Linked DNA regions of Homo sapiens: region 1 is linked to region 2. Evidence: fine-mapped QTL for protein levels in blood plasma. A gene starts in region 2. The other region holds a variant in brackets. All regions are shown on one strand. Distances are between the middles of the regions. Region 1 holds the start of PLVAP (plasmalemma vesicle associated protein). Region 2 holds the start of BST2 (bone marrow stromal cell antigen 2).

Evidence for each region. PIP is the posterior inclusion probability: the model's chance that the variant is causal. The UK Biobank Pharma Proteomics Project read protein levels with antibody pairs (Olink). The fine-mapping took linkage between variants from a reference panel, not from the people measured, so its PIPs are less certain.
Region 1: its variant is fine-mapped to the plasma level of the BST2 protein (UK Biobank, PIP above 0.99).

What each region holds. Positions count from the first base shown.
Region 1 is chr19:17,369,150-17,384,163 of GRCh38, reverse strand. It overlaps PLVAP (plasmalemma vesicle associated protein), which reads left to right and starts at 6,822. Exons shown (of 6, transcript NM_031310.3): 1 at 6,822-7,244. The coding sequence starts at 6,876. LOC105372298 (a long non-coding RNA gene) reads left to right here and starts at 4,392. Exons shown (of 3, transcript XR_936362.3): 1 at 4,392-4,484; 2 at 4,678-4,751; 3 at 5,334-5,374. RefSeq lists an enhancer at 4,116-5,004. The variant C/T (reference allele first, on the strand shown) is at 8,075.
Region 2 is chr19:17,399,092-17,414,105 of GRCh38, reverse strand. It overlaps BST2 (bone marrow stromal cell antigen 2), which reads left to right and starts at 8,476. Exons shown (of 5, transcript NM_004335.4): 1 at 8,476-8,815; 2 at 9,669-9,735; 3 at 9,917-9,977; 4 at 10,282-10,426; 5 at 10,780-11,167. The coding sequence starts at 8,531. The coding sequence ends at 10,411. It overlaps BISPR (BST2 interferon stimulated positive regulator), which reads right to left and starts at 8,420. Exons shown (of 4, transcript NR_130766.1): 1 at 8,335-8,420; 2 at 7,810-8,029; 3 at 801-1,009. It also overlaps a transcript of MVB12A not described here. RefSeq lists enhancers at 6,238-6,764, 7,465-7,514, 7,715-7,764, 7,815-7,874, 8,065-8,444 and 2 more, a silencer at 10,821-10,989 and a cis regulatory region at 14,566-15,014.

The DNA.
Region 1 (15,014 bases), 30 kb after region 2:
ACCATCCTGGGTAATCCCTATCCGTGGCCACACTGGACCTCCCCTCCCATAGCTGGAGGGACAGGGGTAGGGGACAAAAATGGAAAGCCCACAGTGGCCTTGGCAGGAGGGGACATGGGCTAGTTGCAACCTGACCTTTCCAGCCCTCCAGTCACAGGCAAGGAAGTAGGTCCCTGTTTTTCTTTTTATTTATTTATTTATTTATGACACCGAGTTTCACTGTTGTTGCCCAGGCTGGAGTGCAATGGCGCAGTCTCAGCTCACTGCAACCTCCACCTCCCGGGTTTAAGCGATTCTTCTGCCTCAGCCTCCCCAGTGCTGGGATTACAGGCATGCGCCAGGACACTTGGCTAGTTTTGTATTTTTAGTAGAGACGGGGTTTCTCCATGTTGGTCAGGGTGGTCTCAAACTCCTGGCCTCAGGTGATCTGCCTGCCTCAGCCTCCCAAAGTGCTGGGATTACAGGCGTGAGCCACCACGCCCAGCCTAGGTCCCTGTTTTTCAGCAGGGAACACAGAGTCCCAGAGAGCACAGGTTTCCCCCACCCCACAGAGGGACTCTCTTCGCTGCCTCCGTCACCTCCAAAAGCACAAAACTTAACTTCACTTCGATTAACCAAAAACCAAACTCACAGACATAAAAGTGGAGGGTTGGCCCGGTGCAGTGGCTAATGCCTGTAATCCCAGCATTTTGGGAGGCTGAGTTAGGAGGATCACTTGAGGTCAGGAGTTCAAGACCAGTCTGTCCAATATGGTGAAACCCAGTCTCTATTAAAAATATAACAATTAGCCGGGGGTGGTAGTGTGTACCTGTAGTCCCATCTACTTAGGAGGCTGAGCCAGAATTGCTCTAACCTGGGAGACAGAGGTTGCAGTGAGCCGAAATGGCGCCACTGCACTCCAGCCTGGGCGACAGAGCGAGACTCCGTCTCAAAAAAAACAAAAAAAGAAAAAGAAAAAAAAAAGCCAGGCGCAGGGGCTCACGCCTGTAATCCTAGCACTTTGGGAGGCCGAGGTGGGTGGATCACGAGGTCAGGAGATCGAGACCATCCTGGCTAACACGGTGAAACCCCATCTCTACTAAAGGCACAAAAAATTAGCCTGTAGTCCCCAGCTACTCTAGAGGCTGAAGCAGGAGAATGGCATGAACCCGGAAGGAGGCGGAGCTTGCAGTGAGCCAAGATCGTGCCACTGCACTCCAGCCTGGGCAACAGCGCAACACTCCGTCTCAAAAAAAAAAAAACAAAATAGTGGAAGGTTTTCTGAACTTCACTGAAATCCTTCTTCACCAGAAATATCACTTCCTCAAGGACCTTCCTGAAGTTCTGAGTGATTTTGTTTTTTTTTAACTCGTGTCTCCATGAGGACTTCAGTGTCAGTTTTCAGGGAGTGACACAGAGTTGACTTCCTCATGACAGTTTTTCCTTCTCCACTCAAACAAACAAATGAAACCAAATCAATTGTTTTCTGTTTAGAAAAACAAAAGGGTTTAAAAAGCAAGCCTGATTTTCTGATGCCCCTCCAAGGGAATTTGAAGGGATTCATGTGCAAAATTTCCTGTGAACATGACAAATTGTTTTCAGGAAAAAACCCAACACTCACATCAGGGCTGATGCATTTGACTTCATGTAGATTCTTGATCAGGCACTCACATTCTCCCTCCAGATTTTTCTGGCCAAGGACACAAACAGAACATTTTCATAAAGTCCATGTTTGGAGATTTCAGACATCGCAGGCAAAGATGTCAATGAAAACAACCTCTTTGAAGGACAAATTGGTGACAACTATCAAAATGTAAAAATGTGCCCACTTTGAGACCCAGTAATTTCATTCATTTCTGGAAATTTGATTTTCTTTCTTTCTTTCTTTCTTTCTTTCTTTCTTTTTTTTTTTTTTTTTTTTTTTGAGACCGGGTCTCACTCTGTCACCCAGGCTGGAGTGCAGTGGTGTGATCTCGGCTCACTGCAACCTGTGCCTCCTGGATTCAAGCAATTCTCTGCCTCAGCCTCCCAAGTAGCTGGGACTACCACACCCGGCTAATTTTTGTATTTTTTGAAGAGATGGGATTTCAACATGTTGCCCAGGCTGGTCTCAAACTCCTGGACTCAAGTGATCCGCCTGCCTTGGCTTTCCAAAGTGCTTTGGATTACAGATGTGAGCCACCGCACCCAGCCAGGAAATTTGATTTTAAATCTTCTTTTATTTATTGAAAAACTAACTCAGAAAAAATCTAAGTGTCCATTCATAATTTTATGGTACTGTATCTGGTGAAAACCTAAACAGCCAGCCATAGGAGTCAATGAATCTCAAAGACATAATACTGTGCAAAAAGAGGAAGGTCTATCTTTACCTTTTTTTTTTTTTTTTTTTTTGAGATGGAGTCTCACTCTGTAGCCCAGGCTAGAGTGCAGTGGCACGATCTGGGCTCACTGCAACCTCCACCTCCCAGGTTCAAGCAATTCTTCTGCCTCAGCCTCCCGTGTAGCTGGGAGTACTGGCATCCGCCACCATATCTAGCTAATTTTTGTATTTTTAGTAGAGATGGGGTTTCACCATATTGGCCAGGCTGGTCTCGAACTCCTGACCTCGTGATCTACCCGCCTCGACCTCCCAAAGTGCTGGGATTACAGGTGTGAGCCACGACCCCCAGCCTACCCTTTTTGCTAAAAAAAAAAAAAAAAAAAAAAAAAAAAAAAAAAAAAAAAAAATCAGGCCTGGCGTGGTGGCTCACGCCTGTAATCCCAGCAATTTGGGAGGATGAGGTGGGTGGATCACCTGTGGTCAGGAGTTCGACACCAGCCTGGCCAACATGGCGAAAGCCCATCTGTACTAAAAAATACCAAAAAAAAAAAAAAAATTAGCTAGGCATGGTGGTGTGCACCTGTAATCCCAGCTACTCAGGAGGCTGAGGCAGGAGAATCACTTGAACCCAGAGGTGGAGGTTGCAGTGAGCCAAGATCATGCCATTGCATGCCAGCCTGGACGACAAGAGAAAACTCTGCCTCAAAACAAACAAACAAAAAGTTACAAAGTTAAATCAGCTAATATAACAAATGATCCAAAACAGAAACATTACAAATTAAAGGTGTGAGATCAAATTAGAAAAGGACACCAAATATTGTTTTTGGGCTTGATACAAATAACATTGGTATGTATATTTAAAACTCTGCTTCTCACATGGTGACAACTGTTCAAAATTGTGGCACATCAGTACCATCAGGTCCGGGGGGCTTTTTGTTTTCTGGGAGTTTGAGGTTGCCTTTATTTTTCCTTGTCAACTGGTATCACATTCATACATACATAGATGCAACATCTTCTATATACAATGAAGAACAGCCAAGATCTTAAGTGTACACCAAGACCCACATCTACTGGCATTGGCCCAGACACTGCACCCAGCCTCAGCTCCTCTGCTGGACCCTGGTCACCCACACTTCATCCCCATCATGCTCTCCTTTCCCCAGTGCTCTCACAGGCCTGGGGCACCGGCAGCTGGGAATACTGCCCCTCCCCTATGTCTGAGTTCCTCAGCCTGACATCAGAGGCCAGGCATGATCCAGCCCTCACATCTTAAAAAATGCCATCATTGCCCGGTGCGGTGGTTCATTCTGTAATCTCAGCACTTTGGGAGTCCAAGGCAGGTGGATCACCTGAGGTCAGGAGTTTGTGACCAGCCTGGTCAACATGGTGGAACCCCGTCTCTACTAAAAATACAAAAATTAGCTGAGCAGTAGTGCTGCACATCTGTAATCCCAGCTACTTGGGAGGCTGAGGCAGGAGAATTGCTTGAACTCTGGAGGCAGAGGTTGCAGTGAGCCGAGATCGCACCACTGCACTCCATCCTGAGCAATAGAGCAAGACTCTGTCTCAAAAAAAAAAGGCCATCATTTATTAAGACTGAGTATGTTCCAGGCATGACGTCAAGTACTTCAAAACTGGCTATGTTGTTGGCCAGGTGAGGTAGCTCACGCCTGTAATCCGAGCACTTTGGGAGGCCGACGCAGGCGGATCACGAGGTCAGGAGTTTGAGACCAGCCTGGTGAAACCCTGTCTCTACTAAAAATACAAAAAATTAGCCAGGCATGCTGGCGCGTGCCTGTAGTCCCAGCTACTCAGGAGGCTGAGGCAGGAGAATCCCTTGAACCCAGGAGGCAGAGGCTGTGGTGAGCCAAGATAGTGCCACTGCACTCCAGCCTGGGGAACAGTGCCAGACTCCATCTCAAAAAAAAAAAAAAAAAACAAAAAAAAAAAACAAAAAAAACTGGCTATGTTGTCTTCACTTGATTTTTGTTTTGTTTTTGTTTTTTGGGTTTTTTTTTTTTTAGAACAGGGTCTTGAACTTGTGGGCTCCAACGATTCTCCCACCTCTGCCTCCCTAACTGCTGGGATTACAGGTGTGAGCCACTGCACCTGGCTATCTCCACTTCGGACAGGAGAAAACTGAGGCCCAGGGAGGGAAAGTCACTTCTCCAAGGCCACAAAGCTGGTAGGTGGCACAGTCAGAACTCAACTCCAGAACTCTAAACTGTAATGCTGGGTTCACTCAGACTACATTGCCCCCATTACGGAGGATGTTCTCCTCCTGCCCAGCTCTGGGGGGCTCTGGGTGGGTCTGGCCAACCCAGAGAAATGGCTGGTTGGGCACCCGTGGCAGCCCCCAGCCCTCCTTCCCCCACTAGCAGCCGCCGACGACGCCGCTGGGAAGGGTCCGGAATCAGGATCAGGAACCACCGGGTAGCTGCAAAGGTCAAAGGTCAGACATGGGTTTCCTGCCCACCCCTGGGAACTTCCTTCTTCTCAACTCTACACTCGCCTCACTGAGCACCACCCTGGAGTACCCCTCCGCTCTGTCAACGACCCCTCCCCACTCTGTTACCCTGGCTAATGGGGGGACGGGTCCCCACGCCCCAGCCTTCACATTGCCCTACAGAGGACAGCAATTGCATGATTGTCACCTGTCCGGAGTCCAGCCTCCTTTCCGGCTCCCTGCTCCTGTTCCTCCAGCCCACCCTGACTCCACAGGGTGGGGGGTACCTGTCCCAGTCTGTCTCCCAAGACTGGGAGTTGCTTGTGGCTGAGGTTGGGACTGACACCTCTTGGGGGGCCCTGGCATCACCCAGCATGGAGCAAACAAAGAAGGGACTCCAGGGAGGGTTTCCCTGGAGCTCCTGATCCTGGGAGATAGGCAGGACACACAGAATCCTTTGCTTCCGGGTCCCCAAATCCCCTCCAGGCCCAACTGGGGGGTGACCCACAGCGACCCCAGAAAACTCCCGTGGTTTTTTTGGTTTGTTTGTTTTTGTTTTTGAGACAGAGTTTCTCTCTTATCTCCCAGGATGGAGTGCAGTGGCCCGATCTCGCTTCACTGCAACCTCCGCCTCCCGGGTTCAAGTGGTTCTCCTGCCTCAGCTTCCCAAGCAGCTGGGATTACAGGTGCTCGCCACCACACACGGCTAATTTTTGTATTTTTAGTGGAGATGGGGTTTCACCATATTGGCCAGGCTGGTCTCGCACTCCTGACCTCAGGTGATCCGCCTGCCTCAGCCTCACAAAGTGCTGAGATTACAGGTGTGAGCCACTATGCCCGGCCGCCCATGGGGTTTTGAGTGTCGGGGGAGGAATCTCAGTCCCACGTATCCACCACTTGTCATTCACCATCTCACGGAGCCCCCAGCAGTGCCTCCAGCAGGAAATGATCCTAATCATAACAACAGCCACAGAGTGACGAGGCACTGGGTATACCCCGTCTCACAAAGGGGAAAAGGGAGGCACAGACATGCGAGGCCTCTTGCCCGAGCTCTCCCGGGACAAAGCCAGCTCTTCCCCGCTCCAAGTTCATTATTCCTTGTGCTGCAGTTTCCTGGAGCATTTACTGAGCATCTAAGTGAACAGGGCACTGGGGGCAATGACAGAGCTTGGGGAGCCAGCGCCACCGCCATCCATGGCTCAGCCCTCCGTGACGCCCTCCTATGCAATTACTAATCACCTACTGCTTCTCCATCCCTAGGCTAGCTAAGAGTTTCACACTTTTTCTGTTTTTTTTTTTTTTTGAAACAGAGTCTTGCTCTATACCCCAGGCTGGAGTGCAATGGCACGATCTCTGCTCACCGCAACCTCCGACTCCTGGGTTCAAGCGATTCTCCTGCCTCAGCCTCCTGGGTAGCTGGAATTACAGGCGAGCACCACCACACCTGGCTAAGTTTTGTATTTTTAGTAGAGACGGGGGGTTTCACCACGGTGACCGGGTTGGTCTCAAACTTCTGACCTCAGGTGATCCGTCCGCCTCAGCCTCCCAAAGTGCTGGGATTATAGGCGTGAGCCACCGTGCCTGGCACATTTCCCACGTTTTGTGGCACTTAATCAGCACCGCCCTGGTGAAGTGGGTGCACGTCTGTAGCCAGCCTGTCTTGAGGTAAGTCAAGTTCGCTGAACTAACAGCGTGAGACCCCGAGGCAACCCCTTCTCCTCCCTGTGCCTCAGTTTCCTCCGCCACACAAGGGAGACAGCAACAGACCTGGCATGATTCAGCGACCTAATCACAGCAGGTACTGAGAACAGCACCCGCCAGCAAGTAAAGGCGAACGCGAGGCTCGAAGAGGCCAGGAATGCCTGACCAGCCAGCCAGCGCCCCACCCAGCATTAATCAGAGGGGTCCAGCCGGTGCCCTGGCTCTGGGCCCCCAGCCCCACCCCCGCCTTCTCACAGCCAGAGTGGGAGTGTTGTGATAACCCGCAGCCCCCGTTTCCTCCGGGCCAGGAAGGAGCCAGGCAGAGGAAGTATTAAGAGGAGTAATATAAGCACTCCCCCCTGCGAGGCGGGGGCCAGAGCAGGCCTGGTGGTGAGCAGGGACGGTGCACCGGACGGCGGGATCGAGCAAATGGGTCTGGCCATGGAGCACGGAGGGTCCTACGCTCGGGCGGGGGGCAGCTCTCGGGGCTGCTGGTATTACCTGCGCTACTTCTTCCTCTTCGTCTCCCTCATCCAATTCCTCATCATCCTGGGGCTCGTGCTCTTCATGGTCTATGGCAACGTGCACGTGAGCACAGAGTCCAACCTGCAGGCCACCGAGCGCCGAGCCGAGGGCCTATACAGTCAGCTCCTAGGGCTCACGGCCTCCCAGTCCAACTTGACCAAGGAGCTCAACTTCACCACCCGCGCCAAGGATGCCATCATGCAGATGTGGCTGAATGCTCGCCGCGACCTGGACCGCATCAATGCCAGCTTCCGCCAGTGCCAGGGTGACCGGGTAAGGCTGTGGGCAGGACACTCGCCCTGGGGACCCTGAGCAAGCCCCCTCACCTCTCTGAGCCTGAGTTTCCTCATCCAAGAGAGGGGGACGATCACAGGACCAATGCTCTCTTTTCTTATGAGACAGAGTCTCGCTCCGTCTCCCAGGCTGGAGTGCAGTGGTGCAATCTCGGCTCACTGCAACCTCTGCCTCCTGGGTTGGAGTGATTCTCCTGCCTCAGCCTCCCGAGTAGCTGGGATTACAGGCATGTGCCATCATAACCGGCTCATTTTTGTATTTTTAGTAGAGATGGGGTTTCACCATGTTGGCCAGGCTGGTCTCAAACTCCTGACCTCAAGTGATACGCCTGCCTTGGCCTCCCAAATTGTTGGGATTACAAGCGTGAGCCACTGCACCCGGCCGATAGATTTTTTTTTTTTCCTTAAGAGACAGGGTCTCCATGTGTATCCTGGGCTGGATGGAGTGCAATTGCTATCACAGCTCACTGCAACCTCAATCTCCTGGACTCAAGTGATCCTCTTGCCTCAGCCTCCTGAGTAGCTGGGACTACAGGCGTGCACCACCACACCCAGCTAATATGTTTATATTTAGCAGAGATGAGGTCTCACTATGTTGCCCAGGCTAGTCTCGAACTCCTGGGCTCAAGCAATCCTCTCACCCCAGCCTCCCAAACTGCTGGGATTACAGGTGTGGGGCACTGCGTCCAGCTAAATTTTTTTTATTTCTTTTCTTTTTTTTGGAGGCAGGGTCTCACTCTGTCACCCAGGCTGGAGCACAGTGATGTGAGCATAGCTCACTGAAGCCTTGACATCCTGGGCTCCAGCAAT[C/T]CTCCTGCCTCAGCCTTTTGAGTAGCTGGCACTATGGACATGCCACTATGCCCAGGTCATTTTTTATTTTTAGTAGACGTGGGGTCTCGCTATGTTGATCAGGCTGGTCTTGAACTCCTGGGCTCAAACAATCCTCCCTCCTGGACCTCCCAAAGTGCTGAGATTACAGGTGGGCACCACCACACCTGGCAATTTTTTTTTTTTTTTTTGAGACGGAGTCTCGCTCTGTCACCCAGGCTGAAGTGCAGTGGCACAATCTCGCCTCACTGCAACCTCCACCTCCCAGGTTCAAGTGATTCTCCTGCCTCAGCCTCCTGAGTAGCTGGGATTACAGGCGTGTGCAACCATGCCAGCTAATTTTTGTATTTTTAGTAGAGACGGGGTTTCACCATGTTTGCCAGGCTGGTCTCAAACTCCTGACCTCAAGTGAGCCACCCACCTCGGCCTCCCATAGTGCTGGGATTACAGGCATGAGCCACCGTGCCCTGACCTGGTGCCCTGGCTAACTTTTTTTTAGAGACAGAATCTCACTATGCTGCTGAGGCTGGTCTTGAACTCCTAGGCTCACCCTCCTAAAGTGCTGAGATTACAGGCATGAGCCACCATTCCCAGCCAGCAACATTTTTTTTAAACTGTAAGTATATTCCATGCAATATTTGAGATATAATTTTGAAAATAATATTCATTGTCTTTTTGGAATCCAAGTTTAATTCTCCTCCTGTGTGTTAATTGGCAGTCCTGAGCCCATAACTTACTATGCATGAAGCTCCCAGAATGTGCCAGCACTAATCAAAGGGGTCCAGCACACACAAGCTGCAAATAAGTGGCTGAAGACCGGCTACAGTAGCTCACACCTGTAATCCCAGCACTTTGGGAGACCGAGGCAGGAGGACCACCTGAGTCCAGGAATTTGAGACCAACCTGGGCAACATGGTGAAACCCTGTCTGTACAAAAAGTACAAAAATTAGGCCAGGCATACTGGCTAACACCTGTAATCCCAGCACTGTGAGAGGCCAAGGTGGGTGGATCACTTGAGGTCAGAAATTTGAGACCAGCCTGGCCAACCTAGTGAAACCCCGTCTGTACTAAAAATACAAAAATTATTAGCCGGGTATGGTGGTATGTGCCTGTAGTCCCAGCTACTCGGGAGGCTGAGGCAGGAGAATCACTTGAACCTGGGAGGCAGAGATTGCAGTGAGCCGAGATCTCACTACTGCACTCCAGCCTGGGCAACAGAGGGAGACTCTGTCTAAAAATAAATACATACATACATACATACATACATACATACAAAAATTAGTCAGGCATGGTGGCACATGCCAGTAGTCCCAGCTACTTGGGAGGCTGAGGTGGGAGGATCACTTGAGCCCAGGAGGTCAAGGCTGCAGTGAGCCAAGATAGTGCCACTGTACTCCAGCCTGGGCGACTGAGTGAGACCCTGAATGGAAAAAAAAAAACAAAAAAAGGATGGACTGAATAAAAGTTCACAGTGTTTTGTTCCTGTTCAATTCTAGCATGTATAAACAGTCCATATTTGCTGTATGCTGGGTGTTGAATTTAGAAATATTAACTCATTGCCAAATCCCGGGAAGTAGGGAGAAGCTTTTGTTGTTTTGTTTTGTTTGAGATGGAGTCTCACTCTTTCACCCAGGCTGGAGTGCAGTGGCGCAGTCTCGGCTCACTGCAAGCCCCACCTTCTGCGTTCATACCATTCTCCTGCCTCAACCTCCTGAGTAGCTGGGACTACAGGCGCCCGCCGTCATGCCTGGCTAATTTTTCTATTTTTAGTAGAGACCGGGTTTCACTGTGTTAGCCAGGATGGTCTGGATCTCCTGACCCTGTGATCCACCCGCCTCGGCCTCCCAAAGTGCTGGGATTACAGGCGTGAGCCACCGTTCCCGGCTGTTTTGTTTTATTTTGTTTTGTTTGAGACAGGGTCTCCCTCTGTTGCCAAGGCTGGAGTGCAGTGGAAGGTCTCGGCTCACTGCAACCACTGCCTCCCAGGCTCAAGCGATTCTGTTGCCTCAGCCTCCCGAGTAGCTGGGATTGCAGGTGCGCCCCACCATGCCCGGCTAAGTTTTGTATTTTTAGTAGAGATGGGGTTTCACCATGTTGGCCAGGCTGGTCTCAAACTCCTGCCTTCAAGTGATCCACCTGCCTTGGCCTCCCAAAGTGTTGAGATTACAGGAGTGAGCCATTGCGCCTGGGCAGCAGAAGTTTTAAACCCTTTGCAGGCAGGAAAGTGAAGGCATGAGAGGGGAGGTGACTTTCTTGAGGTGGCAGAAACAGGCGGGCTCTCTGGGCAAAGTCACAGCTGCAAATCTGGGGTCTCCTGGAGACCATCGCGCCACTCTCGCACCCCGGCTTGTGTCAAACTCACTAGACAATTATCCCCGTGTTCTCAGACACAACTTCATCCAGGGGGTGTCCCGCCTGCCCTGAGACATTGTGGGGAGCAGGTGTGGGGCTCTCTCCTTAAGGGTGAGGTGGGTGAGAGATGGGAGGGTGGGGTGAGGGAAGGCTGAAGAGGCAGCTTCAGGGTCTTCCAAGGAGGTGACCTGGCTGGCCAGGGCCCAGGCAGTGGCAAAGACAGACCTCCCATAGGACCTCAGACCACCCAGCCGTCCGCACTGGGCAGGAAGGTAAGCTCAGCCCCCTCAGTCCTGCTCAAGGCAGAACTCAGTCTCCTCACCTCAGACCCCTAATGGCGGGGCCCTACCTCCACCTCAACCCCTCGCCCAGAGCCCCAGGGGTAGGGCCCTGTCTCTATCCGCCAAAACCCCGGGGCAAAGCACCGTCTCCCCAGATGCCCAGAGTATGGTAGGTCTCACCTCAGCCCCCCAAGATGGGGTGGAACACCCCTCAGTCCCCAGGGCATAACTGTGCCCCTCCCTCAGACCCTCCCAATAGGGTCCTGCCTGCCCCTTAGATCCTCAGATTAGAGCCCTGCCTCCCCTCTCAGACCTGAACCTGGCTAACTGGTGTCTTTTCTTTCTTTTTTTTTTTTTTTTTTTTTTTTTTTTGAGACAGAGTCTAGCTCTGTCGCCAAGGCTGGGGTGCAATGGCGCGGTATCCACTCACTGCAACCTCTGCCTCCTGGGTTCAAGCAATTCCCCTGCCTTAGCCTCCCGAGTAGCTGGGTCTACAGGTGCCCGCCAACATGCCCTGCTAATTTTTTTTTTGTATTTTTAGTAGAGACGGGGTTTCACTATGTTAACCAGGATGGCCTCAATTTCCTGACCTCGTGATCCGCCCGCCTTGGCCTCCCAGTGCTGGGATTACAGGTGTGAGCCACTGCACCTGGCCTGTCTTTTCATTTAAAAAAAAATTATTGGCCGGGTGCAGTGGCTCACACCTATAATCCCAACACTTCGGGAGGCCGAGGTGGGTGGATCACTAGGTCAGGAGATCGAGACCATGCTGGCTAACACAGTGAAACCCCGTCTCTACTAAAAATACGAAAAATTAGCCAGGTGTGGTGGTGGGCGCCTGTAGTCCCAGCTACTCGGGAGGCTGAGGCAGGAGAATGGCATGAACCCGGGAGGCGGAGCTTGCAGTGAGCCGAGATTGCGCCACTGCACTCCAGCCTGGGCGACAGAGCGAGACTCCGTCTCAAAAAATAAATAAATAAATAAATAAAAACATTATTTAATTATTTTATTATTATTATTACTATTTTTGACACAGAGTTTCACTCTGTCGCCCAGGCTGGATTGCAGTGGCGCAATCTCAGCTCCCTACAACCTCTGCCTCCCGGGTTCAAGTGATTCTCCTACCTCAGCCTCCCGAGTAGCTGGGATTACAGGCACCCGCCACCAAACCCAGCTAATTTTTTGTATTTTTAGTAGAGATGGGGTTTCCCCATGTTGGCCAGGCTGGTCTGGAACTCCTGATCTCAGGTGATCCACCTGCCTCAGCCTCCCAAGACACCTCTTCTCTATAAAAAATAAACTAAAAATTAAAAAAGAAACTTAAAAATCACATCCTTTTTTTTTTTTTTTTTTTTTAGAGACATGGTGTCACTACATTGCCGAGGCTGGTCTCGAACTCCCAGCCTCAAGCAGTGTTCCCACCTCAGCCTCCTAATGACTAAGGCTTTTGAGAACAGAAGGCATTCCCCATGTCCCCCCAGGACATTCACCCAGGGCCAACTGCAAAAGGATGAAGGACAGAGAGTTGCAGAAAGACAAACTCTCCTGATTCTTCATGTCTTATTATATTTCTGCAGAGGGTTCTCTTCCAAAGTTTGAAAGGCATGGCTTTAGTTTGTTAAATTGTGAACACTTTCTTTAAAAACAGCTTTGCTGGCCAGGCGTGGTGGTTCACACCTGTAATCCCAACATTTTGGGAGGCCAAGGTGGGTGGATTGCTTGAGCTCAGCAGTTTAAGACCAGCCTGGGCAACATGGTGAGACCCCATCTCTATAAAAAATTAGCCAGGAGTGGTGGCACGTGCCTGTAATCCCAGCTACTTGAGAGACTGAGGTGGGAGGATTGCCCGAGCCTGGGGAGGCTGAGGCTGCAGTGAGCTGTGATCACACCACCACACTCCAGCCTGGGTGGCAGAGTGAGACCATGTCTCAAAAAAAATAAAATTAAATTAAAATAAAAATAGCTGGCCGGGCGTGGCAGCTCACGTCTGTAATTCCAGCACTTTGGGAAGTCAAGGCAGGAGACTGAGGCCAGTGGATCACTTGAGGTCAGGAGTTCGAAACCACCTGGCTAACATGGTGCAACCCCGTCTCTACTAAAATACAAAAATTAGCTGGTCATGGTGGTGCACCCCTGTATTCCCAGCTACTTGGGAGGCTGAGGCATGAGAATCACTTGAACCCAGGAAGTAGAGGTTGCAGTGAGCTGAGATCACACCGCTGCACTCTAGCCTGGGCCACAGAGCGAGACTCCATCTCAATAATAATAATAATAATAAATAATTTTTAAAAACAGCTTTATTGATATATAATTCATGTATTTTACAATCCACCTATTTAAAGTGTACAATTTGATGTTTTTGTTTGTTTGTTTGTTTGTTTTGAGATGGAGTCTCGCTCTGTCGCCCAGGCTGGAGTGCAGTGGCGCGATCTCAGCTCATTGCAAGCTCTGCCTCCCAGGTTCACGCCATTCTCCTGCCTCAGCCTCCCGAGTAGCTGGGACTACAGGCGCCCGCCACCACGCCTGGCTAATTTTTTGTATTTTTAGTAGAGATGGGGTTTCACCGTGTTAGCCAGGATGGTCTAGATCTCCTGACCTCGTGATCCGCCCGCCTCGGCCTCCCAAAGTGCTGAGATTACAGGCGTGAGCCACCGCGCCCAGCCAATTTGATGATTTTTTTGTAAATTCACAGAGTTGTACATTGATCACCACGATCCATTTTAGAACATTATTTTAGAACATTTTCACCTTCCCAAAAGAAAACCCACGTCCCCATCAGCAGTCACTTCCCATTCCCCTCCCCCAATCCCTGACAGCCACCAACCTGCTTCCTGTCTCTATGGATTTGCCTGTTCTGGGCATTTCATGTCAGTGGAATCTCACATTCTGTGGCCTTTTGTGTCCGGCTTCTCTCACTTAGGCATCATGTTTTTGGGGTTCACACACACTGCAACATGGATCAGTGCTTCCTTCCTTTTTATGGCTGAATCATGTTCTATGTATGGAAGGAACACATTTTGTGCGTTAATTCATCTGCTGACAGGCATTTGGGTTCTTTCCACCTTTGGCTACTGTGAATCGAGCGGCTGTGGACATTCCTGGCAAGTTGATGTGAGGATGTGTTTCCATTGCTCTGGGTATATGCTGAGAAGTAGAGTTTCTGGGTCACGTGGTAACTATGTTTAACATTTTGAGGAACTGCCAGACTTTCCCAAAGCCGTTGCAACATTGTACATTCTCACTAGTACTGTCTGAGAATTCTGATTTCCCCACATCCTCATCAACACCTGTTACTGTTCATTTTGGGGGTTTATGGGTTTTTAAAATAGCCACCCTCGTGGGTGTGTAGTGGTATCTCACTGTGGTCCTGATTTGCATTTCCGTAATGGCTAATGATTTTGAATATCTTTCTTTTTTTTTTTTTTTTTTTTTTTTTAGACAGACTCTCGCTCTGTCACCCAGGCTGGAGTGCAATGGTGTGATCGTGGCTCACTGCAACCTCCATCTCCCGGGTTCAAGCAATTCTTCTGCCTCAGCCTCCCAAGTAGCTGGGATTACAGGCACCTGCCACCAGGCCTGGCTAATTTTTTTGTATTTTTAGTAGAGATGGGGTTTCACCATGTTGGCCAGGCTGGTCTCGAATGCCCAACCTCAGGTGATCCACCTGTCTTGGCCTCCCAAAGTGCTGGGATTATAGGTGTGAGCCACCGCGCCCAGCCGATTTTGAATGTCTTTTGATATGCTCTTTGGCCATTTGCATATCTTATTTAATTTAATTTTAATTTTTCTTTTTTTTTTTTTTGGACATAGAGTCTCACTCTGTTCCCCAGGTTGGAGTGTGGTGGCACAATCTCATCTCACTGCAACCTCCGCCTCCCGGATTCAAGCGAGTCTCCTGGCTCAGACTCCCAAATAGCTGGGACTACAAGCATGCGCTTCCATGCCTGGCTAATTTTTGTATTTTTAGCAAAGATGGGGTTTCGCCATGTTGGCCAGGCTGGTGGTGGGCAGATCACTTGAGGTTAGGAGTTCGAGACCAGCCTGGCCAACATGGCGAAACCCTGTCTCTACTAAAAATACAAAAATTAGCCAGGTATGGTGGTGCACACCTGTAATCCCAGCTACTCGAGAGGCTGAGGCTGGGGAATCACTTGAACCCGGGAGACGGAGGTTACAGTGAGCCGAGATCGTGCCACTGCACTCCAGGCTGGGTGACAGAGCAAAAAACCCTGTCTCAAAAACAACAACAAAAAAAAAAACAAAAAAAGGTTTTTTTTAAAGACTGTTG
Region 2 (15,014 bases):
TTTCACCATTTTGTCCAGGCTGTTCTCGAAGTCCTGACCTCAGGTGATCCACCCACCTCAGCCTCCCAAAGTGCTGGGATTACAGGTGTGAGCCACCACTCCTGGCCGAATTCTGAATTCTTCTTTATGGGAAGTGAGAGCTTGGGACATAGGCATCCCCTTGGACCCAGTAACCCCACTTCTGGGAGTTCAGTTTAAGGAAAGCCTGCAGTCAAGTCCAAAACTTATCAAATGACAAGGGCAAACTATGATGGGGAACTGTAATGTACAAAGTGCTAAGCTAAGCACTTTCTATATATTGCTTTTTCCTGTCAAAGAAAATAAAAATATGAGGACCTTCCAAAGGCAGTTTGCCAAAGGAAAAGTTGTTGTTGTTTGTATTGGTTTGTTTGTTTTTGAGACATGGTCTCATCTGTTGTCCAGGCAGGTGTGCAGTCATGCGAACATGGCTCACTGCATCCTTGATCTCTTGGGCTCAAGGGACCCTCCTACCCCTTGGGCTCAAGGGATCCTCCTACCCAGCCTCCTGAGTGGCAGATCACCTGAGGTCAGGAGTTGGAGACCAGCCTGGCCAACATGGTGAAACCCGGTCTCTACTAAAAATACAAAAATTAGCCAGGCGTGGTGGCAGGTGCCTGTAATCCCAGCTACTCAGGAGGCTGAGGCAGGAGAATTGCTTGAATGCAGAGGCTGCAGTGAGCCAAGATCACACCACTGCACTCCAGCCACCACAGGCGCAGCCACCATGTCCAGCTAATTTTTAAATGTTTTGTTGAGGTGAGGGGTGGGGGGAAACTCACTTTGTTGCTCACACTAGTCTTGATCTTCTGGGCTCGAGTGATCCTCCTGCCTAAGTGTTGGGATTACAGGCATGTACCACCGCGTCTGTACCAAAGGGAAAGTTAGGTCTGGAGACTGAGCCACACAACACTGAAGTTCCTTTCCCGAATGCATGGCTGTTGCTTCCTGATTGTGTTAAGTGGTTAAGCATTGTAGCTTACCCAGATGCCTACAAAAAGAAAAAAAAAAAAAGCCCTCACACATCTCCAGATGATCACCCTCACAAATTGTTCATACGTAAATTCTTTGCTTACTCCTAAATCTTTCCAAGATGTCCAGCCTCCCGTAAACAAAGATACGTAACCTTAGGTTTACAAGCTCTATGTGACCCCTTGTCCACGGAACCAGTCTGCTGAATTTCATCCTGACAGCACTGATTACAAGCTTACTTTCCCCGGTGCAAAACAAAGACAGGATGACATCCATCAGCCCTCCACCAGACCCTGAGACAGCTGCAAAATTAATCTTTCCTTTACTCCTTCTTCAAATGTTTATCTTAGGTATAGCTATAGTTTCAGTTTCCCTGGACACTAATTAAAGTCAGAATAATGTAACTGATGAGAAATCTCACCGCCTATTTTCTTTTTACTGTTTTCTCTGAGTTGATGGAGATACTGTTTCAGTTTCTAATTTGTGTGGACATTCCAATTGACTGGGAAGCAGCTGTTATCACACCCCCGCTATAAGAAAGCAGAGGTTGGCTGGGGGCAGTGGCTCACACCTGTAATCCCAGCACTTTGGGAGGCTGAGGCGGGTGGAACACTTGAAGCCAGGAGTTTGAGACCAGCCTGGCCAACATGGTGAAACCCCGTCTCTACTAAAAATACAAAAATTAGCCGGGCGTGGTGGCACACACCTTTGATCCCACCTACTTGGGAGGCTGAGGCAGGACAATCACTTGAACCAGGGAGACAGAGGTTGCAGAGAGCCAAGACTGCATTACTGCACTCCAGCCTGGGCAACAGAGTGAGACTCCATCTCAAAAAAGAAAGAGAGAGAGAAAGAGCAAAAGAGAGAGAAAGAAAAGCAGAGGCCCGAGGGAAAGGAGCTGGTTCGCCATGATGGAATTTGAGCCCAAGTCTGACTCCAAACCTGCACTCAGTTCTCCCCAGGGCAGGGCTTGTCACGTCTGGTGGCACCTCTGACACTTGGGGCTTGATCATTTACTGTGGGGGGCCGTCCTGTACACTGTAGTGTTGAGCAGCATCCCTGGCCTACATCCCTAGATGGCAGCGGCACTCCCAGCCCCCGCGGTGACAATAAAAATGTCCCCTGGAGCAGAATCGCCCCCACCCGCTGAGCGCCCTGGGGCCAGCGACTTCCTACAGGCATGGAGTTGTCCTCAGAAGCCCATCCGGGGCCACATCTCAGTATCCCAAAGTAAGTGAAATATGCATGTAGTGTAATAAACAGAAATGAAACAGCTGAGGGATGGTTGCGGATGATCTTTGCTCCTATTTTTTTTTTCTTAGCCAGGTGCAGTGGTTCACACCTATAATCCCAGCACCTTGGGAGGCTGAGGAAGGAGGATGACATGAGCCCAGGAGTTTGAGACCAGCCTGGGCAACATACAGAGATCCCGTCTCTACAAACAATACAAAACTTAGCTGGGCGTGATGGTGGTGAGTGGCTGTAGTCCCAGCTACTCAGGAGGCTGAGGCAGGAGGATCGCTTGAGCCCAGGAGTTTGAGAAAAGCCTGGTCAACATAGTGAGACCCCATCTCTACAAAAAAAGTAAAAAAATTAGCCAGGTGTGGTACTGAGCATCTGTGGTCCCAGCTACTCGGGAGGCTGAGGTGGGAGGATCGCTTGAGCCCAGGAGGTCAAAGGCTGCAGTGAGCTATGATCACACCACTGCACTCCAGCCTGGGCGACAGAACAAGAGCCTGTCTTTAATAAATAAATAAAAGAGGGGAAATTGGGTGTAGGGAATGTGGGAAATTCTATTATCCTCACTGTTTTTTTTCTGCAAATCTAAAACTATTCTAAAATAAAATGTTGGCCGGGCACGGTGGCTCACGCCTGTAATCCCAGAACTTTGGGAGGCTGAGGTGGGCAGATCACGAGGTCAGGAGATCGAGACCATCCTGGCCAACATGGTGAAACCCTGTCTCTACTAAAATACAAAAATTAGCTGGGCGTAGTGGCGCATGCCTGTAATCCCAGCTACTTGGGAGGCTGAGGCAGGAGAATTGCTTGAATCAGGGAGTTGGAGGTTGCAGTGAGTGGAGATCGCGCCACTGCACTCCAGCCTAGGTGACAGAGTGAGACTCTGTCTCAAAAATAAATAAATAAAATAAAATAAAATAAAATGTTTCTTTTCTTTTTTTTTTTTTTTGAGACAGAGTCTCACTCTGTCGCCCAGGCTGAAGTGCAGTGGCGCGATCTCACTGCACTGCAACCTCTGCCTCTGGGTTCAAGCGATTCTTCTGCCTCAGCCTTCTGAGTAGCTGGGATTACAGGCACCTGCCACTACGCCTGGCTAGTTTTTGTATTTTTAGTAGAGACAGGGTTTCACCATGTTGGCCAGGCTGGTCTCGAACTCCTGACGTCAGGTCATCCACCCGCCTCAGCCTCCAAAGTGCTGGGATTACAGGCATGAACCACTGCTCCCAACTGAAATGTTTCTCTAAAATAATAATAATTATATATATATATGTGTATATATATATGTGTGTATATATATATGTATATATATGTATATATATGTGTGTGTATATATATATGTGTGTGTGTATATATATATATATATATATATATATATATATGAAGCTAAAACCAAAAGAATGCTAGCGGCTGGGTGCAGTGGCTTACTCCTGTAATTCCAACACTTTGCGGGGGCTGAGGCAGGAGGATCTTTGGAGCCTAGGAGTTTGAGACCAGCCTGGGAAACATACTGAGACCCCCATCTCTACAAAAAATAAAAAATTAGCTGGGCGTGGTGGTGCACACATATAGTCCCAGCTACGCCAGAGGCTGAGGTGAGAGGATTGCTTGAGCCCAGGAGGTCAAGGCTGCAGTGAGCTATGATTGCACCACTGCGCTCCAGCCTGGGCAACAGGACAAGATTCTGTCTCAAAAGAAAATAAAAAAAGAAAAAGAATGGTAGCATAACAGTTTCCATTTCTAATTTTATTGCGAAAGTAATTGTGGTTTCTGCCATAACTTTTAGTAAGCATAATTAATTAATGCCATTAAAAGTAATGGAAGGCCGGGCGTGGTGGCTCATGGCTGTAATCGCAGTACTTTGGGAGGCCGAGATGGACGGATCATGAGGTCAGGAGTTCGAGACCAGCCTGGGTAACATGGTGAAACCCCGTCTCTACTAAAAATACAAAAATTAGCTGGGCGTGGTGGCGGGTACCTGTAATCCCAGCTACTCAGGAGACTGAGGCAGCAGGATTGCTTGAACCCAGGAGGCGGAGGTCAGAGGTTGCAGTGAGACGAGATCGTGCCAATGCACCCCAGCCTGAGAGACAGACCGAGACTCCATCTCAAAGAAAAAAACAAAAAAAGGCTGGGTGCGGTGGCTCAAGCCTGTAACCCCAGCAATTTGGGAGGCCGAGGCGGGCAGATCACCTGAGGTCGGGAGTTTGAGACCAGCCTGGCCAACATGGAGAAACCTAAACCTCTCTACTAAAAATACAAAATTAGCCGGGCATGGTGGCGCATGCCTGTAATCCCAGCTACTAGGGAGGCTGAGGCAGGAGAATTGTTTGAACCCAGGAGGCAGAGGTTGTGGTGAGCTAAGATTGCATCATTGCACTCCACCCTGGGTAACAAGAGTGAAATTCCATCTCAAAAAAAAAAAAAAAAAAAAAAAAGTAATGGCAGAGGCTGGGAGCGGTGGCTCATGCCTGTAATCCCAGCACTTTGGGAGGCCAAGTCGGGTGGATCCCTTGAGGTCGGGAGTTCGAGACCAGCCTGGCCAACATGTCGAAACCCCGTCTCTCCTAAAAATACAAAAAGTAGCTGGGCATGGTGGCAGGCATCTGTAGTCCCAGCTACTCAGGAGGCTGAGGCAGAAGAATCACTTCAACCCAGGAGGCAGAGGTTGCAGTGAGCCGAGATTACACCACTGCACTCCAGCCTGGGTGACAGAGGGAGAATATATTTAAAAATATAAAATAAAATATAGGCCGGGCACGGTGGCTCACGCTTGTAATCCCAGTACTTGGTGAGTCCAAGTTGGGTGGATCACCTGAGGTCAGAAGTTTGAGACCAGCCTGGCCAACATGGCGAAACCCCATCTCTACTAAAAATGCAAAAAGTAGCCAGGCATGGTGGCAGGCATCTGTAGTCCCAGCTACTCAGGAGGCTGAGGCAGGAGAATCGCTTCAACCCAGGAGGCAGAGGTTGTAGTGATCGAGATCGTACCACTGCACTCCAGCCTGGGCGACAGAGAGAGATTCCCTCTCAAAAAAAAAAAAAAAAAAGTAATGGCAGAAACCGCAATTACTTTTGCACCAACCAATATATAAAAATACATTATATATTTAAAAATATAAAATAAAATATAGGCCAGGTGCAGTGGCTCACGCCTGTAATCCCAGCACTTTGGGAGGCTGAGTCAGACAGATCACCTGAGGTCAGGAGTTCAAGACCAGCCTGGTCAACATGGCAAAACCCTGTCTCTACTAAAAGTACAAAAATAAGCCAGGCATGGCGGTGGGCGCCTGTAATCCCAGCTACTCAGGAGGCTGAGGCAGGGGAATCGCTTGAACTCCGGAGGCAGAGGTTGCAGTGAGCCAAGATCGTGCCACTGCACTCCAGCCTGGGCAACAAGAGCGAGACTCCATCTCAAAAAAAATTAATTAATTAATTAATTAATTAAAACAAAATAAAATAAATATATGTACTTAAAATATATATATATATTTATTTTTAAATAGGGATAGGATCTCTCTATGTTGACCAGGCTGGTCTCGAACTACTGGCCTCAAGCAATCTTCCCATCTCAGCCTCCCAAAGTACTAGGATTGCAGGCATGAGCCACTGCACCCATCCCACCATTTGTAATTGTGGGCGGCAAGCCACCCAGGTGCCAAGGCAAGAGACTGAGGACACGAGCTGTTCCAGTATAATAAAATATAAAACAAGAATAGTTATACCAAATATAGATCTTAGAGATATATGAATATCATTAATCATTAGTTTGTAGTAATTACTCTTTATCCCAATAGTATAATAATCCTCGGTCTACAATCATAACCTAGGAAAAACCAGGCCATACAGAGATAGGAGCTGAGGGGACATAGTGAGGTGTGACCAGAAGACAAGAGTGCAAGCCTTCTGTTATGCCCGGACAGGGCCAGCAGAAGGGCTCCTTGGTCTAGCGGTGACGCCAGCGTCTGGGAAGACGCCCGTTGCCCGAGCGGACAGTGGTCTAGCGGTAGCGAAAAGTGTCAAGGAACAACACCCACTACTTAGCAGACCGGGAAAGGGAGGCTCCTTTTCCCTGGGGGAGTTTGGAGAAGACTCTGCTCCTCCACCTCTTGTGGAGGGCCTGACATCAGTCAGGCTCGCCCGCGGTTATCTGGCAGCCTAACCGTCTCCCTGTGATGCTGTGCTTCAGTGGTCACGCTCCTAGTCCGCCTTCATGTTCCATCCTGTACACCTGGCTCTGCCTTCTAGATAGCAGTAGTCATTTAGTGAAAGTACTAAAAGTCTCTGATATGCAGAAATAATGGCATAAGCTGTCTTTCTGTCTGTCCCCTCTCTCTCTCTCTGCCTCGGCTGCCAGGCAGGGAAGGGCCCCCTGTCCAGTGGACACGTGACCCACGTGACCTTACCTATCATTGGAGATGACTCACACTCTTTACCCTGCCCCTTTTGCTTTGTATCCAATAAATAACAGCACAGCCAGACATTCGGGGCCACTACCAGTCTCCGCGCATTGCTGGTAGTGGTCCCCCGGGCCCAGCTGTCTTTTCTTTTATCTCTTCGTCTTGTGTCTTTATTTCTACACTCTCTCGTCGCCGCACACAGGGAGAGACCCACTGACCCTGTGGGGCTGGTCCCTACAGTAATTTTAAAGGGAAGAGCAACAAACTTTCGGTTTGCAGGGCTGGGACTGTTTACAGCTGCAAAATTTAGAGAGGACATCAATCTATTATTATCCACATTTTACAGCTGGGGAAATCAATGCTAAGAGAGGAAATTCATTTGCCCAGAGGTGCACCACCCTGGCCTCCAATGTGCAATTCATGCAATTGTGATTTCCGACCTGGTCCCAAACTAACCCTAAAGTTAGCAGGCCAGAACAGTGCTGCTCAAATAAGTCAGCTTAGTCAAATAAGTCAGGCAAAGGTCGTGTCTTTGCACCTGGAGTCCTGGCCAGGCTGGTAGGTCCCTCCTCCTGGGACAAGTTCACCCTCAGAATTTTCAGCAAGATCATCTCCCACAGCTTGTTAATTGGTTCTTGGTTCTAAGTGATTTTTTTGTTTATTGGTTTAAGAGATGGGATCCCACTCTATCACCCAGGCTTGAGTGCCGTGGCACAATCATAGCTCGCTGCAGCCTCAAACTCCTGGGCTCGAGTGATCCTCCTGCCTCAGCCTCCCAGCCTCAGCCTGGGACCACAGGCATGTACCACCATGCCTGGCTCTAAGTGGCTTTAATGGGGTCCTTCTGAGGGATGTTGGAGTCAGGGCCTGGGGGGAGTTCCCCAGGCCTTCTGGGAGGCCTGGGCTCTGGACTTGACCTCGCCTACTGTCTGGCCCTGCTGAAAAGAAAAAAAAACATGGAAATGGCAGACCTAACAGAATCTGGGCTGTGGTCAGGATGTGGCTGAAGAAGCCACAAGAAAAACATGCAGTCCCCTTTCAGCGGTCATGCCCAGCAGTTGGGTGCCGATAATGGGCCTGATTTCCTGTAGGAAGCCCTGGCTCTCTTGGCCACATGGACAGTGTCTGAGGCTGGCCCTGTTATTCCCCTTTGCAGATGAAGAAACAGGCTCAGAGAGTTTACCTGGTATCCTGGAGTCCCAGGAGCACTTTTTCTGGAAGTAGGAGCTTGTTTCCTGCAGGTGCCAAGACAGAGACCGACATTGTTTGTTGGCTGGGTCGGTCTCCCAGTTTTCAGCTGGCTCCAGTCTCACCTGTTGCTCACACACCCTCCATGTCTCCCATAGTCCCCTCGGTGGGGACAGAGGCACTGGATGAAGCCCTGCTCGTCACCACAGAGACACCTGAACACAAAAACCAGTCCCTGGGGTCAGACCCAGGCCCCGCCCCCAGACCCAGGCCCTGCCCTCACTCCACCACGCAACTGTGCAACCTCAGTTTCCCCAGGTGGAGACCGGACCAACAGTGATGGCCTCTGCCTCTTCAGGTCATAGTACAGATGAATACAGGCTGGCACGGCCTAGGCACTCAGTAACACACAGCAGAGGCACAGGGACTTAAGATGGAGTGTCCCAGGCAGCCACAGTTGGCTGGCACCCAGCTGGGAAGGGCCCAAGGGCTTTTAAAGCAGGGTGAAAAAAAAGCCCACCTCCTTTCTGGGAAACTGAAACTGAAAACCTAATTAATCCTCTGCCTGTAGGTGCCTCATGCAAGAGCTGCTGGTCAGAGCACTTCCTGGAACTTGCTATTGGTCAGGACGTTTCCTATGCTAATAAAGGGGTGGCCCGTAGAAGATTCCAGCACCCTCCCCTAACTCCAGGCCAGACTCTAAAGGGGAGATCTGGATGGCATCTACTTCGTATGACTATTGCAGAGTGCCCATGGAAGACGGGGATAAGCGCTGTAAGCTTCTGCTGGGGATAGGAATTCTGGTGCTCCTGATCATCGTGATTCTGGGGGTGCCCTTGATTATCTTCACCATCAAGGCCAACAGCGAGGCCTGCCGGGACGGCCTTCGGGCAGTGATGGAGTGTCGCAATGTCACCCATCTCCTGCAACAAGAGCTGACCGAGGCCCAGAAGGGCTTTCAGGATGTGGAGGCCCAGGCCGCCACCTGCAACCACACTGTGGTAAGCTCCTCAACTCCTTTGGATGGCCTAGTACTAGGCGGTGGGAGGGACAAGAATCTCTCCCCAGAAATCTGACCCAGGGTGGGTCTCCAGGGAGATGCAGGGGAGGTCCTGAAACTGCTCCTGGGCCCCCACATCAAGGGACCTAGGTTCCCCTACCAGGGTTTGTGGGCCCCTAACCCAGTCCAGGGCACTGGTGTAGGGGCAGGGTGTTAAAACTCTCCAGATCCCCCAAATCGGGGACCTCAGTATCCCCCTGGGACTTAGGTGAATTTATAAATTCTTTCCAGGGCACTGGTGTCGGGGGCCTTGAAACTCCTCGTGGGCACCAGTCCTGGGGGAGTAGAAATCCCTATTCAGGGTTGAAGGGGGACCTCACCAGACCCTGAAAAAGGGGGCTTTTGAAATTTTCACTTCATCCCTAAGAAACTGAAATATTCACCTGGGTCCTGATATGGGGGATCTTGAAACTCTCGCTGGGCATGTCACTTGGGCGGGGAAATCCCACTGCATTCTGGATTTGGTAGGGCCCTCTAACTTTTCTTGGGCCATTGCTCAGGCAATCTGGAAATGTCCACTAAACTTTGGTTATCGATAGCCTCCAAGTTTCCACGTGGGGTGGCCTCAAAACTCCCATTTTGAGGACCCACATGCTTATGGGTGGCCCTGGGAGAGTGTGTGGTTGTGGCTGTTCTTTAAGGTTGGAGACCATGGTGCAGAGAGGGTTGGAAGAAAACCTGAAAGGGGTTTGCATTTAAGCCCCTCTGTCCCCAGGACCTAGGGAGGAGGCCCAGGTCCCAGGGGCAGCAGCCAAACTCCCCAGGCCAAAACCCCAGATTCTAACTCTTCTTAGATGGCCCTAATGGCTTCCCTGGATGCAGAGAAGGCCCAAGGACAAAAGAAAGTGGAGGAGCTTGAGGGTGAGAAAGGGAGAAGGGAGAGGGCCGGGGAGGGGTGAGTCAGGTATGGAAGAGGGGGTGGGGGCAGGGAGACCAGGGCTGGAGGTTGGGGTAAGGGGGAGGTTCTGTCCCAGAGTGGAGCAGGGCCCCAGCATGGCCACATGCTGACCCGCCCCCTGTTTCTGTCCTCCCACCCTACCAGGAGAGATCACTACATTAAACCATAAGCTTCAGGACGCGTCTGCAGAGGTGGAGCGACTGAGGTCAGAGATAGCCTTCCCCCGCTACCCTCCACCTGCCACATTCCTCTCACCCCCACATCCCTAGCCCAAGACCCAGGATCTCCTTTGCTCCCAAAATCCCCATTGCCCCAAGGGATAAAGTTTGAGTCCCACAAAAGGATAACTTAGCCCCTAGGGTCACAGAGCCATGGGTGGCCGCTGTCCATTCCCTCCCCGGTGACTTGGATTGGGGCGGTGCGGGGGGAACTCCCGGGGGCGGTGGGCTTACAGGGAGGGCGGCAGGAGCCAGGACGAGCAGATGCCTGATTTGCCATCTGTACCGCAGAAGAGAAAACCAGGTCTTAAGCGTGAGAATCGCGGACAAGAAGTACTACCCCAGCTCCCAGGACTCCAGCTCCGCTGCGGCGCCCCAGCTGCTGATTGTGCTGCTGGGCCTCAGCGCTCTGCTGCAGTGAGATCCCAGGAAGCTGGTCAGTGAGGAGGGGGCGGCCCCGGGAGGGAGAAGAAAGCTGGGGAAGCGGGGCGGGGAAGCAGAGGCTCCGAAGTCTAGAGAGAGAGGCTGCAGGGGAAGGGACTGGGCGCAGAGGTGAGGGGCCTTGGGGAAGGAGGGAGAATCCAGTGAGAAGGATGCCCTGGATCGGGGACGGGCTGATAGCTGTATGGGGCGGGGCTATCAATGGGGGCGGGTCTATCGATGGAGGGGAGGGGCTTATGGATGGGTGGGGCGGGTCTAGCGATGGGGGCGGGGCTTGGGGCCGGGCTTGGAGCGGGGCCAGTGTCTGCTGCCTCCAGTCTGCCCTGAGTCCCTCTTCTGGTCCTTTAGGCACATCTTGGAAGGTCCGTCCTGCTCGGCTTTTCGCTTGAACATTCCCTTGATCTCATCAGTTCTGAGCGGGTCATGGGGCAACACGGTTAGCGGGGAGAGCACGGGGTAGCCGGAGAAGGGCCTCTGGAGCAGGTCTGGAGGGGCCATGGGGAAGTCCTGGGTGTGGGGACACAGTCGGGTTGACCCAGGGCTGTCTCCCTCCAGAGCCTCCCTCCGGACAATGAGTCCCCCCTCTTGTCTCCCACCCTGAGATTGGGCATGGGGTGCGGTGTGGGGGGCATGTGCTGCCTGTTGTTATGGGTTTTTTTTGCGGGGGGGGTTGCTTTTTTCTGGGGTCTTTGAGCTCCAAAAAATAAACACTTCCTTTGAGGGAGAGCACACCTGACTCTCGAGTTCCTGGAGTATCATCGTTTTAGTACCCAAGCGTTGGGGCCGCCCCTGCAGGTGAGAGTGGACACCCCGTTGACGATGACACCTCCCTTCCCTGCTCCAGGACGTTTTCAGGAGCCCACGGAGTTCGGGGAGGCACCACCCCAGTTCTTCCCAGCCCTTGTCTCTGCTGGGATCAACATAAGAACTATGCACCCTCATCAGGGCTCACCGTTTCCCAGGTGTTGTATTCTCATCTCCTCCCTAGAGCCTCTCCTGATTCCTGGGGATCCAGTGAGGAAACTGAGGCTGTAACTGAGAGTAACCTTGTCTTGCTTCCCTTCCCGCCTGCAGAAAATGCTGGGCTGGGATTTAAACTGGGATCTGTACACACACACAGGCCATGCATTGTCAGAATGTTTCCCCCTGCTTCATCCCCCAGATTCTCTCTCTCTCTCTCTTTTTTTTTTTTTTTTTTTTTTTTTTGAGACGGAGTTTCGCTCTTGTTTCCCAGGCTGGAGTGCGATGGCGCAGTCTCGGCTCACCGCAACCTCCGCCTCCCGGGTTCAAGCGATTCTCCTGCCTCAGCCTCCCAAGTAGCTGGGACTACAGGCTTGCGCCACCATGCCCGGCTAATTTTGTATTTTTAGTAAAGACGGGGTTTCTCCATGTTGGTCAGGCTAGTCTCGAACTCTCGACCCCAGGTGATCTGCCTGCCTTGGCCTCCCAAAGTGCTGGGATTACAGGCATGAGCCACCACCCCCGGCTCTTTTTTTTTTTTTTTTTTGAGACAGAGTTTTGCTCTGTCGCCCAGGCTGGAGTAGAGTGGCACGATCTTGGCTCACTGCAACTTCTGCCTTCCAGGTTCAAGTGATTCTCCTGCCTCAGCCTCCCGAGTAGCTGGGATTACAGTACTACACCACCACACCTGGCTAATTTTTGTATTTTTAGTGGAGACAGGGGTTTCATCATGTTGGCCAGGCTGGCCTCAAACTCCTGACCTCAAGGGATCTACCCACCTTGGGCTCCTAAAGTGCTGGGATTACAGGCATGAGCCATCACACCTGGCCCGATTCCCCAAACTCTTATTCATTCTGCAGTACCCAGCTCTGGGAACCCCTCCCCCAGAGAGTCTCTCTGCTTCTCCACAATTGAGGGCTGCAATCCCGACGGACCCTTCACCTACCTTATTCGATCCTCAAAGATGCCATAGTCCCTTCCTTCTCTGTTATCTTACTTCCTCCAAGTTCTCCCGGAATCCCGGCCATTGTCTCTGCAACTCCAACTCCTGTTTGTGGTAATGGAGCCAGGAGTCCCTTGTCCCAGATTTCTGTACTATCCTAAGGTCCCACAGTCCCCAGCCCAGACGGTCAGTGGGATTTAAAAAAAAAAAAAACCCTCTGGCCAGGCACAGTGGCTCACGCCTGTAATCCCAGAACTTTGGGAGGCCGAGGCAGGTGGATCACTTGAGCTCAGTTCAAGACCAACCTGGCCAACATGGTGAACCCCATCTCTACTAAAAATACAAAAAAATGGCTGGGCGTGGTGGTTCATGCCTGTAATCCCAGCACTTTGGGAGGCCAAGGTTGTTGGATCACAAGGTCAAGAGATCCAGACCATCCTGGCGAACACGGTGAAACCCTGTCTCTACTAAAAATACAAAAAATTAGCCTGGCGTGGTGGCATGCACCTGTAGTCCCAGTTACTCAGGAGGCTGAGGCACGAGAATCGCTTGAACCCGAGAGGCGGATGTTGCAGTGAGCCGAGATCCCGCCACTGCACTCCTGCCTGGGCAATAGAGCGAGACTCTGTCTCAAAATAAAAAAAATTAGCGGGGGGTGGTGGGTCGTGCCTATAGTCCCAGCTACACAGGAGGCTGAGGCAGGAAAATCGCTTGAACCCAGGAGGTGGAGGTTGCAGTGAGCTGAGATCACGCTACTGCACTCTAGCCTGGGCGACAGAGCAAGAGTCTGTCTCAAAAATAAATAAATAAATAAAACCAGGCCTCCACTTCCATGGTTCCTACTGCTGTCCCAGGGAAGGGTCCCCAAATACCTCCCCTGCCACAGACCCCCTGGCCCTCTTGCCCCCTCACTTCCCCTTGCTCACCACCTCCACCTTTACTGATCCCAAGTTCCTTTTTGCCTCAAGGCCTTTGCCCAAGCTCTGCCTGCTGCCTGGAGCACCCGTTCCTCACTCCCAAGGTCTAGGGCAGGGTCTCAGCCTCAGCAGCATTGGTGGTTTGGGCTGGATGGTTCTCTGGGTGGGGACCATCCTGTGCATTGTAGGATTTTGTTTTTTGTTTTGGGTTTTTTTTGTTTGTTTTTTTGAGATGGAGTCTCACTCTGTCTCCCAGGCTGGAGTGCAGTGGTGCGATTTCAGCTCACTGCAAACTCCGTCTCCCGGGTTCAAGTGATTATCCTGCCTCAGCCTCCCGAGTAGCTGGGATTACAGGCACCCGCCATCATGTCCGGCTAATTTTTGTATTTTTAGTAGAAACGGTGTTTCACCATGTTGTTCAGGCTGGTCTTGAACTCCTGACCTGAAGAAATCCACCCGCCTCGGCCTCCCAAAGTGCTGGAATTACAGACATGAGACACGGCGCCCAGCTGCATTGTAGGATATTAAACGGCATCCCTGGCCCCCACCCATAAATGCAAGTAACACCCTCCCAAGTTGTGACAATTAAAAATGTTTCCAGGCTGGGCATGGTGGCTCATGCCTGTAATCCCAGCACTTTGGGAGGTCGAAGGGGGAGGATTGCTTCAGCCCAGGAGGTCAAGACCAGCCTGGGCAACATAGGGAGACCTCCATCTCTACAAAAAATTTAATAATTAGCTGGGCATGGTGGCACACGCCTGTAGTCGCAGCTACTTGGGAGGCTGAGGCAGGAGGATCGCTTGAGCCTGGGATGTCAAGGCTGCAGTGAGCCAAGATGATGCAACTCCAGCCTGGGCAACAGAGCCAGACTCTGTCTCAAAAGAAAAAAAAAGTCTCTATATGTTGCTAAGTGTCCCCGGGAGCAGGGTGGGCCTTCACTTCTGTGGCCCTGGCTTGCAAAAAAGCCAAAGCCGCTTTGCAACTACTAAGCTATTTCATCCTCACCAACAGCCCCGGTGAGGCCTAGGGTAATTACTGGACTTTTTCAGGGGTTTTTGTTTTTTTTGTGGTTGGTTTGTTTGTTTTTTGAGATGGAGTCTTGCTCTGTTGCCCAGGCTGGAGTGCAATGGTGCGATCTCAGCTCATTGCAACCTCCACCTCCTGGATTCAAGTGATTCTCCTGCCTCAGCCTCCCAAGTAGCTGGGACTACAGGCGCCCACCACCACGCTGGGCTAATTTTTTTTGTATTTTTAGTAGAGACGGGGTGTCACCGTGTTAGCCAGGATGGTCTTGATCTCCTGACCTCGTGATCCGCCCGCCTCAGCCTCCCAAAGTGCTGGGATTACAGGCGTGAGCCACCATGCCTGGCCTTGTTCAGGGTTTCAAAGCTCGTTGGGCAATTAACCCTCCACATTCTGTGGATTTCCTTTTGCCCAGGAAACAAACGCTCCCCACGTGACCTCCTCCACTCACCACTCCCGACTTGGGCCATGGAAAGGTCCCCAGACTATGCTGCTGCTCCACCCACCCCCACCCCTACTCACACTCCCTCCCCCACTCTCCCCCCACAACCCCCACCCCCATCCTGCCTGGGCTGTATTTTGCTGATAAGATTAGCCCAATATTGTGGATTCAACTCCCAATCCCCCCACACAATGGCCTGGGTGTAAATTTCCCTACTTCCTAAAATGTCCCATCTTCCCTCCCTATTTTGTCCTTTTCCTGAGAGACCTGACTCCAAGGCTGTGACCCACCCAGGGGT